Linked DNA regions of Homo sapiens. The protein of the gene in region 1 interacts with the protein of each later gene in a pairwise test. Each region holds a gene or a part of one and is shown in the gene's direction. Other genes may lie near its edges.

What was found. Proteins that work in one complex are often made in the same cells at the same time.
Region 2: the proteins of ZNRF2 (region 1) and UBE2W interact in a two-hybrid assay, tested with the Homo sapiens proteins (one study listed by BioGRID).

The regions. Positions count from the first base shown.
Region 1 is NC_000007.14:30,287,578-30,294,611, forward strand, and holds part of ZNRF2 (E3 ubiquitin-protein ligase ZNRF2), read left to right. Parts: intron 1-1,180; exon of another isoform or gene 1,181-1,255; intron 1,256-2,216; exon of another isoform or gene 2,217-2,313; intron 2,314-7,034. UniProt on the Homo sapiens protein: E3 ubiquitin-protein ligase that plays a role in the establishment and maintenance of neuronal transmission and plasticity. Ubiquitinates the Na(+)/K(+) ATPase alpha-1 subunit/ATP1A1 and thereby influences its endocytosis and/or degradation.
Region 2 is NC_000008.11:73,819,863-73,826,896, reverse strand, and holds part of UBE2W (ubiquitin-conjugating enzyme E2 W), read left to right. Parts: intron 1-1,647; coding exon 1,648-1,750; intron 1,751-7,034. UniProt on the Homo sapiens protein: Accepts ubiquitin from the E1 complex and catalyzes its covalent attachment to other proteins.

The DNA.
Region 1 (7,034 bases):
GTAAGTAAAAATACCTAGTTGCTTAAAGTTGGAGATAAAGCATTTATCTTTTTTCTTATCTAAGTTCTAGATTTGTGCACTCATTATAGTTCTTTTAGTGCTGTTGGGGTTGGGTGACTGGGGCCTAGTAGTACAGTGACACTTTCTGAGGAACTTACAGCAGCCTTTCTCACCCGGCTTTCTGGAGACAATTGTGCCGTAGTGTGCAATGAATTTTAACTTTTAGCTCCAGTGCATTTAGAACGGTTTTAGTTATGTATCATTCTTGGAACAATTGAGAAAAGTCACTGAAATAATTTCCTGTGTTTGGTGATTCAGATGAGGAACCTCAGTTGAGAATTGCTGGAAAGACATCAGAGAAATTACCTGTTCTTATTATATGACAGGATCAGATGAAAGTGCCACATCCTGAAATCTCTGTTGAGGCAGGGAGATGGAATACATTTACGTAAAAACCCATCTTAGTGGCATTGCCTTACTGAGATTTTTACCTATATTTTAGTGGACGGGTTATTAGGAAAACAATAGAAGCATGTTTCTCATCATCTTGAGATTTAGGGAGCTAAATGAAGAATCTTATAATTAAAAAAGACTTGACTAGTTCACATTTACTTAACTTTTTAGTATCTATTATAACATTATTGTGTTTATTCAGTTACAAATTGTATAAATGGTTATATACAAATAACTGCATCTGAAAATTGATAAAAGGATTATTTCAGAATTAGTGGAAAGTTCGTATTGTTTTTTGTAAAACTGTTGTTTTAATTGTTGTTTATATTATTAACGTCTCCTAATAAGAAAATGTGGTACTAATAAGATTCAAAATTATTCTCTTGTGAGCTCTCATGTAATTTATAGAAAATGAAAAACAGTCCCCCCCTTTTATTTTTAACACTTAAGAGTCTAGCAAGTGGAATTGTTAGTAGTTCTCTCATAATGAATTGCCACATTGAACGAGGAAGTTTTCTGTGTTGGTTTTATGTTTTGATGTCATTTGGACATCTGTTTTGGCTATATACACTCTTATTCTCTCTAGAGAACTGGAAGAAAAATGCCTAATCCAGATATTTCAGTGTGTAGAAATTTCCTAGAATTGAGTTGCCAGACATCAGAATGTGATTATATTTATATAGGAGTTTTTAGGTGAAGTAAATCTTGTCCTTATTATTCTTTTCAGACTGAGGAGTGTTAAAGTGAACAGACGCTTTCTTGACTACTGCTAGTGTCGTCCATCACCTTTGTTTTAAAACAGGTCTTAAGGGTATTTCCTAATATTTAAAAATGTTGATGGTATTTTAGGGTTTGTTTGGCTTTAATTTACGTCTACGTTTTTTTTTCCACTGTCAAGTAGCTGTTGTTCATAAGAGCATAATATGAGTGGTCAAATAGCCTTTAATGATGCAGCAAGGATGGGGTAGATGAATTGGGCTATAGAAATATACCAATACATGGAGATTATTTCCAGAGAAATCGTGTGGACTTCTATAATGTATCCTTGAGTCCAGAAGTGAAAATGTAAAATGACTTAATCTAAGACAACCAGTGGTGCTGGGTTGCTTTTGGCCTCCTGATTTTCTTGAGCTTTTTTGGGTGTGGCTTGCTCATGAGTATTTCAGTAGTCTGATTGTAACTCAGGTGCCTTGCTACTTGTGAAACATGTTTTCTTATATTGAAGGAGTGTGGGTTATCTCTTAAAACTGAATATGTTGAATAAGACCTGTATTTCTAGGAAGATTTCTCTTAATTTTTAAGGCAGATGTGAAGTTTTATGGTGTTAGGTTATCTTCATCAATTAACCATTATGGAATCGGTCTCAGTTATCACTTCTTACCAATATCAAGTGCCAAAATGTTTGAATTTGGGATATTGTAATTAATCTATTTCCTATTCCTGAATGTTATTTTGTGCCATTGAAGGCTTTTATGGGGAGTGGCCGAAGAGGAATGTTTGCCTCTTTCTAAGAAAAATGAGCCTTCTAACCACAACCCCTGCCACTCCTGAAGTAATAAGAATTTTGGTGGTTATTGTTCCTCACTTGTAATTTCATACCTTCGTGTTACATGTTTTGCTGTGTGTAAGTGTGGCCTGTGTCATGGAAGTTTCTGCTTTGGGAATTTTTTGGAATTATTCTTGACTGCAAGGTGGGGAGGATTGGTGAGTTGCACAGGGCATCACCTGATCTGAGAGCAGCGTGACCTAAGAACCTGGTATTTTGATGCTTTGCTGGCTGGTGCAGTGCCTGAGGGAGTAAGAGCCCTGTTGTTGTAAGATAGTGTCTTACTCCCTCAGGCACATCTCCAACAAGTCTCTTGCTCTCCTCCAATTTGATCGCTTTGCCTGGTGACCAGTAACTAAGTTCTTCTGATTACCAAATATCATTAATGAGATATCAACTTTTAAACTATTTATTATTATTTGGGTTTTAAGGAGAATTGCCCTAATATTAAACTTATTACATGTAGTATTATGTATAATTGGGTATATTGGCAAATGTGTTAAAAGAGAGTGTAGGAACTGCTTTATGTAGCAAATTACTTCCTAAGTTTTATGTGAATATTCTTAAGAACTGTTATTTGAAATGTTAGTCTGTGTTTTAATTTTGCATGTACATGACATTTATTTGTTAAGAAATTGGACAAAACATAGGCCTTTTTGTGAACAAAGGGTTCAGAAATACCTTAGGTTCTGATTTTATTCGTTTTCTAAGCTGCTTATTCACAAATGACTGCAAATTTAGTGGTTCTAAGCAACACGTTTATTGCCTTGCAATTTCTGTGGGTCAAGAGGCTGGGCACAACTTAGCTGTGTCCTCTTTAAGACTGCAGTCAAAGTGTAGGTCAGGGCAGGGTTGTTATCTAGTGACTCAACTGGGGAAAGGTCTGCCCACAGACTTCCTTGGGTTATTGGCTGAATTTATTTCCTTGTGTCTGTTAGGTTCAGAGCAGCTTGCTTCTTCAAAGTAAGCAAAGGAAAGGTGAACTGGTGCTATGTTCTTACATAATCGTGTACATGTAATCACATACAACCCATTGCCTTTGCTGTATTTCATTCATTAGAAGCAAGTCATAGGTCCAGTTCACGTGCAAGGGGAGGGAATTATACAAAGGTTTAAACACCAGGAAGTGTAGGAATCAAGAATAGTCACATCAGTTCTTTCTGCCACATGGATTATAGATAGATTGACAGCTGAACATGTAACTTCTTTTTTAAACTCATTTTAATTTACTTTTAAAAAGTTGTACTAATGCATATGGTTAAGTATAGCATTAATAAACATGAACTTAACCCCTTTTAGGGGCTGGACATTATAGATACTGAGGGTACAAATATGGAGCTTCTTTATGCACTGCTCAACTCTCCATTGAATTTGAGAGATGGATATATGTGATCATTATACAATGCAACAAATTCTGTAATAGAACTGTTAACAAAACACTTAGTGAAGTATCTTTGTCTAGGCTGGTCAAAAAATGCTTCACAGAGGAGGGTACGTTTGAACTGTAGTTTGAAGGATTTAGAAGTTGTACGGAGAGAGGGCAGTACAGACTAAAGAAAAATCCACAAAAGTGTGGGTTTTGATAGGGCATACTGAAAAGTTAAATATGTCTGGATTGTAGGGTGCATAGAGGAATGATGAGAACCTGAAGCTAGAAAAATAGAAAGTGGAGCCAGTTGAAAGATTTTATAGTGCTGTAGGTTTGTTTTATCTAATGAAGTTTGAAAGCAGGGGGAGTATCATGATTAGGCCATTGGGCACAATTAACACTCGTAGTTTACATGGATGGCAACCTTCTCTAGTGGTGCAGACTTCAGGCTGTATGCAGCAACCCTGATCAGGATTCAGTTCTTAAGGAGGAGAGTGTGATAGCAGGAGAATAAGTTAGGATTCTTTTAAAATATAACTGATAGAAGATGCCTATGTTGAAAACATGGCATTGGTGAGGGAGAAGAAAAGTTAGATTTGATTGAGATTTCTAAGCTAGAACTGATAGAATTGACCTGGGTACATAGTGATGTCTTTAACCAGTATTAAAGATGAAAAGAACAAGTTTTAGGAAATGATAATGAGTTCCTTTCAGGCCTGTTAAATTTGAGTGGCTACAGGATTTTCATCTGGATAGAAGTATACTTTAAGTGGTTGGAAACATGAGTCTCTAATTCAGGATATTACAAAAAACTGAGAAATCAATTTGCAAGTTATAAATGAATCCAGAAAGTGGATAAGATTACTAAGGGATGAATATAGATTGACGAAGGACAAGGATGGAATCCAGAGGAGCAAGTATTTTAAGAGACAGGGAGAGGAAGAGGCCAGCAGTTAGAATTCAACCAGAGGGAAAGGAAGTTTTTTAAAAACCTGGGTTTTTTTTTAATTATAAAAATAATACCTGTTCACTAGAGAAAAACTAACATACGGAAAAGCAGGTATAAAAATCGCAAATTGCTTGTAATTTTACCACCAGAAATAACTGTTAATGTCTTTTATATATGTATTTGTTTTAGACACAAAATTTGGAACATTCATTTTTATATTGTTTTGATTTTAACCTTTCTGATGTTCTAATACAAAGTTTTAAAGCTACACATTTTCCTCCAAGAATTGCTTTACCTGAATCCCACTGATGTTGAAGTGTTCTTGTTAACATTCAGTGAAAAATGTATTTTAATTTCCCATATGATTTCTTCTTGATCCATGGGTTACATATTCTTTGATAACATGCTGTTTCCATTTCCACCAGTTTCTAACATCACATTAAAATTTTTTATAACATGATTTTTAATTATTACCCAGTATTCCAAAAATCACTCAAATATTTAATGAGGACGCGCTTTTCCGGACACTATTCTGGGGGTACAGCAGTGAAGAAATAAGATAAAAATCCCTGCTTTTAGGGGCCTTATTATTCTATTTGGGAGAGATAGTAAACAGACAAGTAAAATACATAGTGTGTTAGGGCATTGAGTGTAATGGAAAAAAAATGGAGTGCAAAGGCTGATAGAGATTCTGGGGTGGAGGCCTATCTATAGTTGCTATTTTAAATCGGGTTTTAAGGATGACCTCACTGACAAGGTGACAATTCAAGCAGAAAGTGAAGGAGCAAGTCATGAGGATCTCTGGGGTAAAAACATATTCAGGCACAGGGAGCAGTAACTATAAAGGCCCTGAGGCATGAGTGTACCTGATATGTAGGTTTACTTACAGCTGGAGTGCAGAGGGCTGTAGAAGATGAGAGCATAGTGGGGTGGCATGAGGTTGGGACAGAATCATAAACTGCCTCATAACCACTGACCTGTGGTTTGCGGCTTTTGTTTTAAAGAGGGATGGGGAGTATTTTTGTGCAGAGGATTGACATAATCTGACTTGGGTTTTAAAGGATTACTCTGGCTATTGTGTGAGGTGGCAAGAGTCAGCAAGGAGGCAAAAATCCAGATGAAAGATAACAGTGGCTTGGACTGGGTGGCAGTGCTGGAGGTGCTAAGCAGTGGCCAGATTCTGCATATCCCGTGTTTTGAAGATAGAGCCACCTGGATTAGATGTGGAGGTATGAGAGAAAATGAAGAGTCAAGGATTTATTTCGTTGTTCCTTATGGTTGAGCATTTTGTTTGTTTGGTACAGATGTAATAAAATACTGTTGCCATGAACACCCTGGTAAGCAAATTTTTACATTTTTTTTTTTTTTTTTTGGGATGGAGTCTTGCTCTGTCACCCAGGCTACAGTGCAGTAGTGCGATCTTGGCTCACTGCAACCTCTGCCTCCCAGGTTCAAGTGATTCTTGTGCCCCAGCCTCCCAAGTAGCTGGGATTACAGGTGTGCACCACCATGCCTCACTAATTTTTGTATTTTTAGTAGAGACTGGGTTTTGCCATGTTGGCCAGGCTAGTCTTGAGCTCTTGGCCTCAAGTGATTCGCCCACCTCAGCCTCCCAAAGTGCTGGGATTACAGGCCTGAGTGCCCGGCCAGTTCTTAGAAATTTATCAGCGACATGGGATTGCCAGAAACAAAGATACACTTTTGTTCAAGGCATTGGATCTTTATTGCCAAATTGCTCATTAGAGATGGAAACAGCTTCTAGCAAGGTATAATCTTTGGGACTACGTAAAATTTTTTAACCCATAAAAACTTGTGAGGTTTTTGATATTTATAAGTGCAGATTGGTGGATATATTTCGAGTAATGTCACCTATCAGAGTCATTATTTCATTCAGGGCTCTTTTTTTAGCGACGAAAATATTAGTGTGTCAGAAAATTATAGATGTATTCAGTCATTTGAATTTCATAAGTTCCGACCATGTGGAATATCCTAATTTTTGCTTGAATTGTGATTAGTCTGTAATAGTTCTTTAATTTACCTATTTATATGTGAGCTGAGGAAAAAAAGAAGAATGAAGCCATGCATACATAATGGGTTATTTATTTTTATTTTTATTGTCTTTTTTTTCTTTCCTTTTTGTGGAGAACAGGGTCTCGCTATATTGCCCAGGCAGGATTATGTGTAATATGTTTCAGAGAGCCAGTGCTCAGTTTGAACAACACATTTTGCTATTTTTGTTGGTTTTTAATTTTTTCTACTGTTACCTCTATTCTGTTCGTTCTCATTTTGTAAAGTTAATTTTGTTCTTTCTCTTAGCTTCTTTTATTTTTTATTTATTATTTTTTAATGATAAAAGCGTTTAAGGCTGTGTTTACTTCTTGTTACATATAGTCACTTCCCAAAGCTTTGGATACTTACCATTTTCATTATCATTGAGTACACATTTTTGTTTCTTTTAAAATCAGTTCTATCGGGGAATAATCATGTTAACTGCATTTCGATATTTTCTTTTACTTGGAAGTTATTTTAAAGTGTGGCTTTATTGTGGTGGTCCTTACTAGTACCCTTTCGTTACTTCTAGTGTTAATTTAGAAATATTGCACCGTGGCTGGGCACTGTGGCTCATGCCTGTAATCCTAGCACTTTGGGAGGCCCAGGTGGGTGGATCATCTGAGGTCAGGAGTTCGAGACCAGCCTGGACAACATGGTGAAACCCC
Region 2 (7,034 bases), on another chromosome or scaffold:
TGCATTTAATTTACCATGTATTGACTGAGTCAGGAATGTGCTAGGTTTTTTACGTATGTAGGGTCATTTATCTTTCCAACAACACTATGAGGTGATTATCTTCTGTTTTATTATTGAGGTAGTTAAAACTGGAGAGATAACATAACTTGTTCACACAATGAGTTAAGATTAACTATAACTGCGACTTCAGTATAACTTCAGTTATAACTGTCTAATTTCACTATAAAATATTGTCTCTTGGGTCTGTGGTCGTATCTTTTATTACCATGTATGGTACTCAGCGTGCATTCTTAAAATGAATAGCCATGCTCTTAAGAGTCTGTATACTGTAGCTGATTTCTTTTAGAGAATAGGTACATTTATTATTTTACATAATCCAAGGTTCATAGTATGCGTGGTGATGACTAGAATCCCAACACTGTATTTTCTATCTTCCTTTTGTTTTCTTGTATTTTAAATACAAGAAAGTTTAATAACTGAAAAGTTCAAGAGAATTGCCCAGGTGTACAAGAATTATAAGTGACAGAGCTATAATTAGGAACACATTGTTAATGACTTCAATTCACTTTTGCTTCTAATGCTGCCCTGTTATCTTTGCTGTCATTATCCCTTATTCTTCCCATCTTAAAGAAAATAACAAGAATAGTATATAAACTGTAAATAACACATTTATGTTTATGATTGTTATATATGAAAACAAAGGCTTGCATAGATGGCATAGAAATGGGCTTTATTAAACAATTGAAACATAGTGAGAGATAAAGGAAAGTCACCACAAAGCCTTGCTTAATCATCAGAGTAAGTGGACTGATGTCAATTTAGCTCCCCTTGCCCTGTTAATCTTCTCTAGGATGTTGATGAAAAAAATAAGTCTGACAGCTACGGTTCTCTGTGGTCATTGTCTATACGTATTTCTCCATGGCTTCCACCAGTAATAATCAGAGGCAGTTGCTTTGTTTGATGTTATGTATAGAATACGTAATATCAGCATTGTAGAAATGGTACTTTGAAAAAATAAGGTAGTATAAATCAATTAGGAGGAGCACAGGCTTTGGTGTCAGTGCACCTTAGTTTGAGGTCTGTTTGTTTGTTTATTTTGAGACAGTCTTGCCCTGTAGCCCAGGCTGGAGTGCAGTGGCATGATCTTGGCTCACTGCAACCTCTGCCTCCCGGGTTCAAGCGATTCTCCTGCCTCAGCCTCCTGAGTAGCTGGGATTACAGGTGCACACCACCATGCCCGGCTAATTTTTGTATTTTTAGTAGAGACCGGTTTCACCATGTTGGTCAGGCTGGTCTTAAACTCCTGACCTCGTGATCTGCCTGTCTTGGCCTCCCAAAGTTCTGGGATTACAGGTGTGAGCCACCACACCCGGCCTTGGGTTTTATTTAGTTTGCTTTTTTAGACCTGGCTCTGTCTTTTGCTAGCTGTCTGACCTTGATCTGGTTATTTCACCGCTGAGTGTCAGAGAAGGGGATAGGTCATGAGAATTAACAGTAAGAGAGTTATTGGGAGGCTGGCATGTGCTGTTACACATAACCAACTCTTGTCCTAGTGCTTAGTGTATAGGAAGTACTTGGTGTCCTCTTTTCTCCTCCTTACCCCAGTCTCTATTATCTTAAGTTTTTAATTTGCCTTTTCTATTCTAGGTGGATTGTAGACATGGAAGGTGCACCAGGTACCTTATATGAAGGGGAAAAATTTCAACTTCTATTTAAATTTAGTAGTCGATATCCTTTTGACTCTCCTCAGGTAATTGCCTTGCTTTAAATTTTTTTTTTTGTATTTTTAGATAGCTAAATGCCAGAGATGTTTGACTCAGTAAAAACATATAAATCAGTTATACGTATGTAGATGGATTTGTTATTTCATTATCTTATTTGTCATATAATCAAGATATGAACATTACACTTTATTGGGATTAGGGCTTTACTGCATTTTGCTTCTAAAATTGTTTCATTTGTTGCTTATCCATAAATGCTAACAGAAAAGGGAATAGAAATCTAACCAGGCCTCTAGGCCAGGGGTCCCCAACCCCCATGCTGTGGACTAGTACTGGTCCATGGCCTGTTAGGAGTCGGGCCACACAGGAGGTGAGCAGCATTACTGCCTGAGCTCTGCCTCCTGTCAGATCAGCGATGGCATTAGATTCTCATAGGAGTACGAGCCTTATTGTGAACTGCACATGTGAGGGATCTAGATAGCACGCTCTTTATGAGAATCTAATGCCTGATGATCTGAGATGGAACAGTTCCATCCCAAAACCATCATCCAATCCCCAACCCCATCCATGGAAAAATTGTCTTCCATCACACCGGTCCCTTGTGTCAAAAAGATTGGGGACCACTGCTCTAGGCCATCGGAGAAGTTGACATTTTGGAATAACTGGAGGCACTTCTCCTAGGTCAGATGGTAGAATCACATGGTGAAGAGAAAAGTTCTCTGTTGGAAGGAGTACTATGATTTTGCATTGACATGCTGTCCTTGCAGCCTTTTAGTACAGGAAGGGCAGAGTACATCATCAGATGTTAAATATCTAAACATCAGCACAAAGTCTGATTATTATAATTTGATGCCCAGTGAGTTTAGTTAATAGCTTAATACTTAGACAAGGGATAATGGTGGTAGAGAAATGTTTTTTGAGAGCTATTTAACTATAGTAAATGATTAATCAGGTTAGAGAAAGGAAGACTCTAGGATGACTTCCAGGTTTCTGGCTTGGTAAGATAAGTAAATGAGTTACTATAATTACTTATTCTTCAGAGAATTATAACAAAGCACTTCATTTTTAAAATTTGAGGCTTGTGAGATCCGTTGGCTAAAATGGTAAGACATGATGCCAGCTCTCTCTAGTATTGCTAGCAAATGAGCTATTCTGGAAAATACAACCAAATACCTGAAATATTTCCCAGATACTGAAAATTTTGCTTGTTGGGTGCTGAAATGTACTATTTGGAGGAAAATCATATTTCATTGTCACTTTAAACAATATACCAAACACAGCTTAATCTTTTCTTAGTTATGTAAGAGAAGAGATAAAGTCAGTTATTGTATCATGCTATAAGTAAAGAGATAATTGTTTTAAAGCATAGATTTAAATGGATACTGACTCCTTAAGTTCTAAAATTTTCATATGAGCAGAAAACTACCAAGACTTTTAGGACTTATTTTTATCATTTTCATAAAAGTTAAAGTGAAAGGGTATGTGCTATTGTGACCTCTAGATGTCTACAATAAGCATTTGTAGACTATAATAAAAAGAACAAACATCTTCTCTCCAGAAGATTGTCATCACTTTTGTTGCTTTCTGGCTGGCCAGCATCATTTCTGACTGTAAATGTGTGGAGACAACAGGATCTCAGTCTGTTTTCATCATCAGCCTATTTGTCTACCTTCAACTAAGTTCAATGATGGTATGGGAAGGAAGAATATTTCACACCAATTCAAAAGCTTTTGACTAGGGAGATATTGGGGGAAGGCTTACTCTGGGAGCTTACAGATTTTTCACCAGAGGAAAATAATATTTCTGTAAGCATGAAACCAAGTCAAAAATGTGTTCTCTAAACTCTTTCCTTAATATTTAATTCTAAATCAAATATCAAACTTAAACATTATGTTGAATTTCTTCTTTAATATTTCTGTAAGTTACAGCATTTGTAATAAATTCTCCCTATTGTCCTATTTCAAATTCATTTTATCCTCCTTCCCTGATTTTATTTGTCTGTTCTTCTAACATTGGTGTTATCCAGGTTCTTTATTCAGCACTGTGTTACTCTTCTCACTCTTCTTTCACCTTCAGTCACCTTAAGCAGCTAACTCCCAGATCTACAGCTCTGGGAACACTTCTTTTTTTAAGGCTTAATTTCACACCCTTGTTGAAATACTTGAGTACCTCCAGACATCTCAAATTTAACACAACTAAACTTGATCTTTCCAATAACAAAGAACATTTTGTTTTTCTTTATCCTGGGTTACTGTCCACCTGTCTATTTTTGTGCTCAGTTTTTCTCTTTTCCACACTCCTCCCTCCTACATTTGAAAGGTAGCCCATTCTTTTCTTAATGTCAGTGCTGTAGTCTGGTTTTTTGTTTGTTTGTTTTTGTTTTGTTTTTTTTGAGACAGCGTCTCGCTTTGTCACCCAGGTTGGAGTGCAGTGGTGCAATCTTGGCTCACTGCAACTGCTGCCACCTGGGCTCAAGTGATCCTACCATATCAGCCTCCGAAGCAGCTGGGACTACAGGTGCATGCCACCACACCCAGCTAATTTTTTTTTTTTTTTTTTTTTTTTTTTTTTTTGCAGTTGCAAGATTTAATAGAGTGAAAACAGAGCTCCCATACAAAGGGAGGGGACCCAAAGGGGGTTGCTGTTGCCAGCTCGAATGTCTGGGTTTATTTCCTGATCGTTGTCCCTCCCTCTGTGCTCTCAGGCAACAGATGATTGGCTATTTCTTTACCTCCTGTTTTTGCCTAATTAGCATTTTAGTGAGCTCTCTTTACTATCTGATTGGTCAGGTGTGAGCTAAGTTGCAAGCCCTGTGTTTAAAGGTGGAAGCGGTCACCTTCCCAGCTAGGCTTAGGGATTCTTTGTCGGCCTAGGAAATCCAGCTAGTCCTGTCTCTCAGTGCCCCCTCTCAACAGGAAAACCCAAGTGCTGTTGGGGAGGTTGGCCGACAACCACTCTAACTGCTTCCCGCTGAATTGGGACGTAGTAGGGGTTGTGCAGTTGAGATTTCCTCAGGAGGGGTGCCTTCAATGTCATTAACATTGGAGCATGGGCTAGCAGGCCGGTCCAGGGGTCTGTGGTAGATTTTAGTCATGGACTGTCTGGGGCTCCATTTGAAGAACGATTTGTAGTTTTACAGCTTCAATTCTGGAAGAGACAAACTTAACAAGGAGGTTAAAGATAGAGGGATTGAAATGTATGGCCTGCAGTGCAGGGGATTATTTCTTTGGCACACTTTACAGGCCTTGACTATCTGCTTGATAGTTTTGAAAAGGTCTGGTCCAGTAAATAATGATTTGGCCATCTGATGGCACACCCAGCTAATTTTTATATTTTTTGTAGAGATGGGGTCTTGCCATGTTGCCCAGACTAGTCTCGAGCTCCTGGGCTCAAGCGATCAGCCCACCTCCTTGGCCTCCCAAAGTGCTGGGATTACATGTGTGAGCCACCATGCCTGGCCTAGTCCAGGTTTTTATCTTTTATTTGAACCATTACAGTAGCCTTTAGTTCTTTGAATTCCTACATCCTTTCACGGTGCCAATAGATTTGTTTGAAGGCACAGTTATCTCACTGGTTACATACCACACACATGGACATGCACACACATCCCCCCCCCCCCACACACACACTCCCACACCCCACTCCACCCCCCCACCACACACACACTCTGTCTCACTCCACCATCCCCAGAATTCCTCACCCCCTGACAGTAAAACCTCTTAATGTTTATTTCCTATGGAATCAAGTTTTTAGCCTGGCATTCAAGTCCCTGTATAGTCACATCCAAACTTAACTTTTTCTGCACCTGCATGCATTCTGTATGGTAATATTTCTATATAGTACTTCATAATTTAACTTCCATTCTGATTTTGTTTTCTAACATCTTTTAATGAAGTGGTTAGGGGAGGTAGATTCATCCTCATTTTATATGTGAAGAAATTGAAACTTGTAGAAGTGAAGTGCCTTGTTCACGTTTTAATACCTAGTTTATAGGACAGTCAAGACCCAAACCCAAGTCTTTCCTTTCCTCCTTTGCCATACTGCCAATTAGATGCGAGTACCGGTGTGGAAAAAATGCCTATTTATCTATGTAGTAATTTTCTCTCTGAAAGTGAAAGATTATATGTGGAATGAATGGTACCTTTGAAAGCTCTAGGTCAGTTATTCTCACTCTTTTTGAAATATAAGGATTCCTTTTTTAATTTACTTTTTGGTGGGGTGGGGGTGCGGAGACAGAGTCTCCCTTTGTCATCTACCTATGCTGTGGTGTAATCATAGCTCACTGCAGCCTCCAACTCCTGGGCTCAAGTGATCCTTCCACCTCAGCCTCCAGAGTAGCAGGGACTACAGCCATCTGCCGCCATGCCTGGCTTGGTTTTTTTATTTTGTTTTTTTGTTTGTTTGTTTGTTTGTTTGTTTGTTTTTTATTTTTTTGAGACAGAGTCTCGCTCTGTTGCCCAGGCTGGAGTGCAGTGGTGTGATCTCTGCTCACTGCAACCTCTGCCTCCTGGGCTTAAACCATTCTCCCACCTCAGCCTCTCTGAGTAGCTGCAACTACAGGTATGCACCACCATGCCTGGCTTATTTTTTTTTGTATTTTTGGTAGAAACAAGGTTTCACCATGTTGGTCCAGCTGGTCTTGAACTCCTGTCCTAAAGTGATCTGCTCGCCTCGGCCTGTCAAAGTACTGGGATCATAGGCACGCCCAGTGAGGATTCCTTTTTAATATCAGTTAATTCTGTAGTCCCTCACATGGCATAGAGGTTGTATATTCTAATATCCATTGATTGGGAAAATGGCAGAACTACTCTGAGGCCAGTAATACGTTAAAATTTTTTAAAATGTATTTATACATAATCTATATAGTTTTAACATAATTATAATGGGTCAAACATCAATGCTTGATGTGCTTATAGACTTCAAGATTTTTCCAATAACTGAAACTTTGCAGAGATCCACTGCCCTGGGAAAGTGGCTAGAACCAGTCCTCTAGGGCAGTAAAATTCCCCCAAAATTTTATTTGATGAAACTCTGTAGCATTAGCACTTGTTACCTAAATTAGTCTTTCATCTTTCTGGCTGGGCATGGTACTCATGCCTGTAATCCAAGCACTTTGAGAGGCCAAGGCAGCCCAGGAGTTTTGGGACCAGCCTGGGCAACGTAGGGCAACCCCATCTCTAATAAAAAAAAGAAAGAAAAGTCTTTCATCTTTCTATGCAATGAACAGTACTGAGTTTATCACTAGTTACAAGAGTAGAATTTGGAAAATATTTCTAGAATAGATGAATCTCATTGTGAAATTACTGCTTTTGT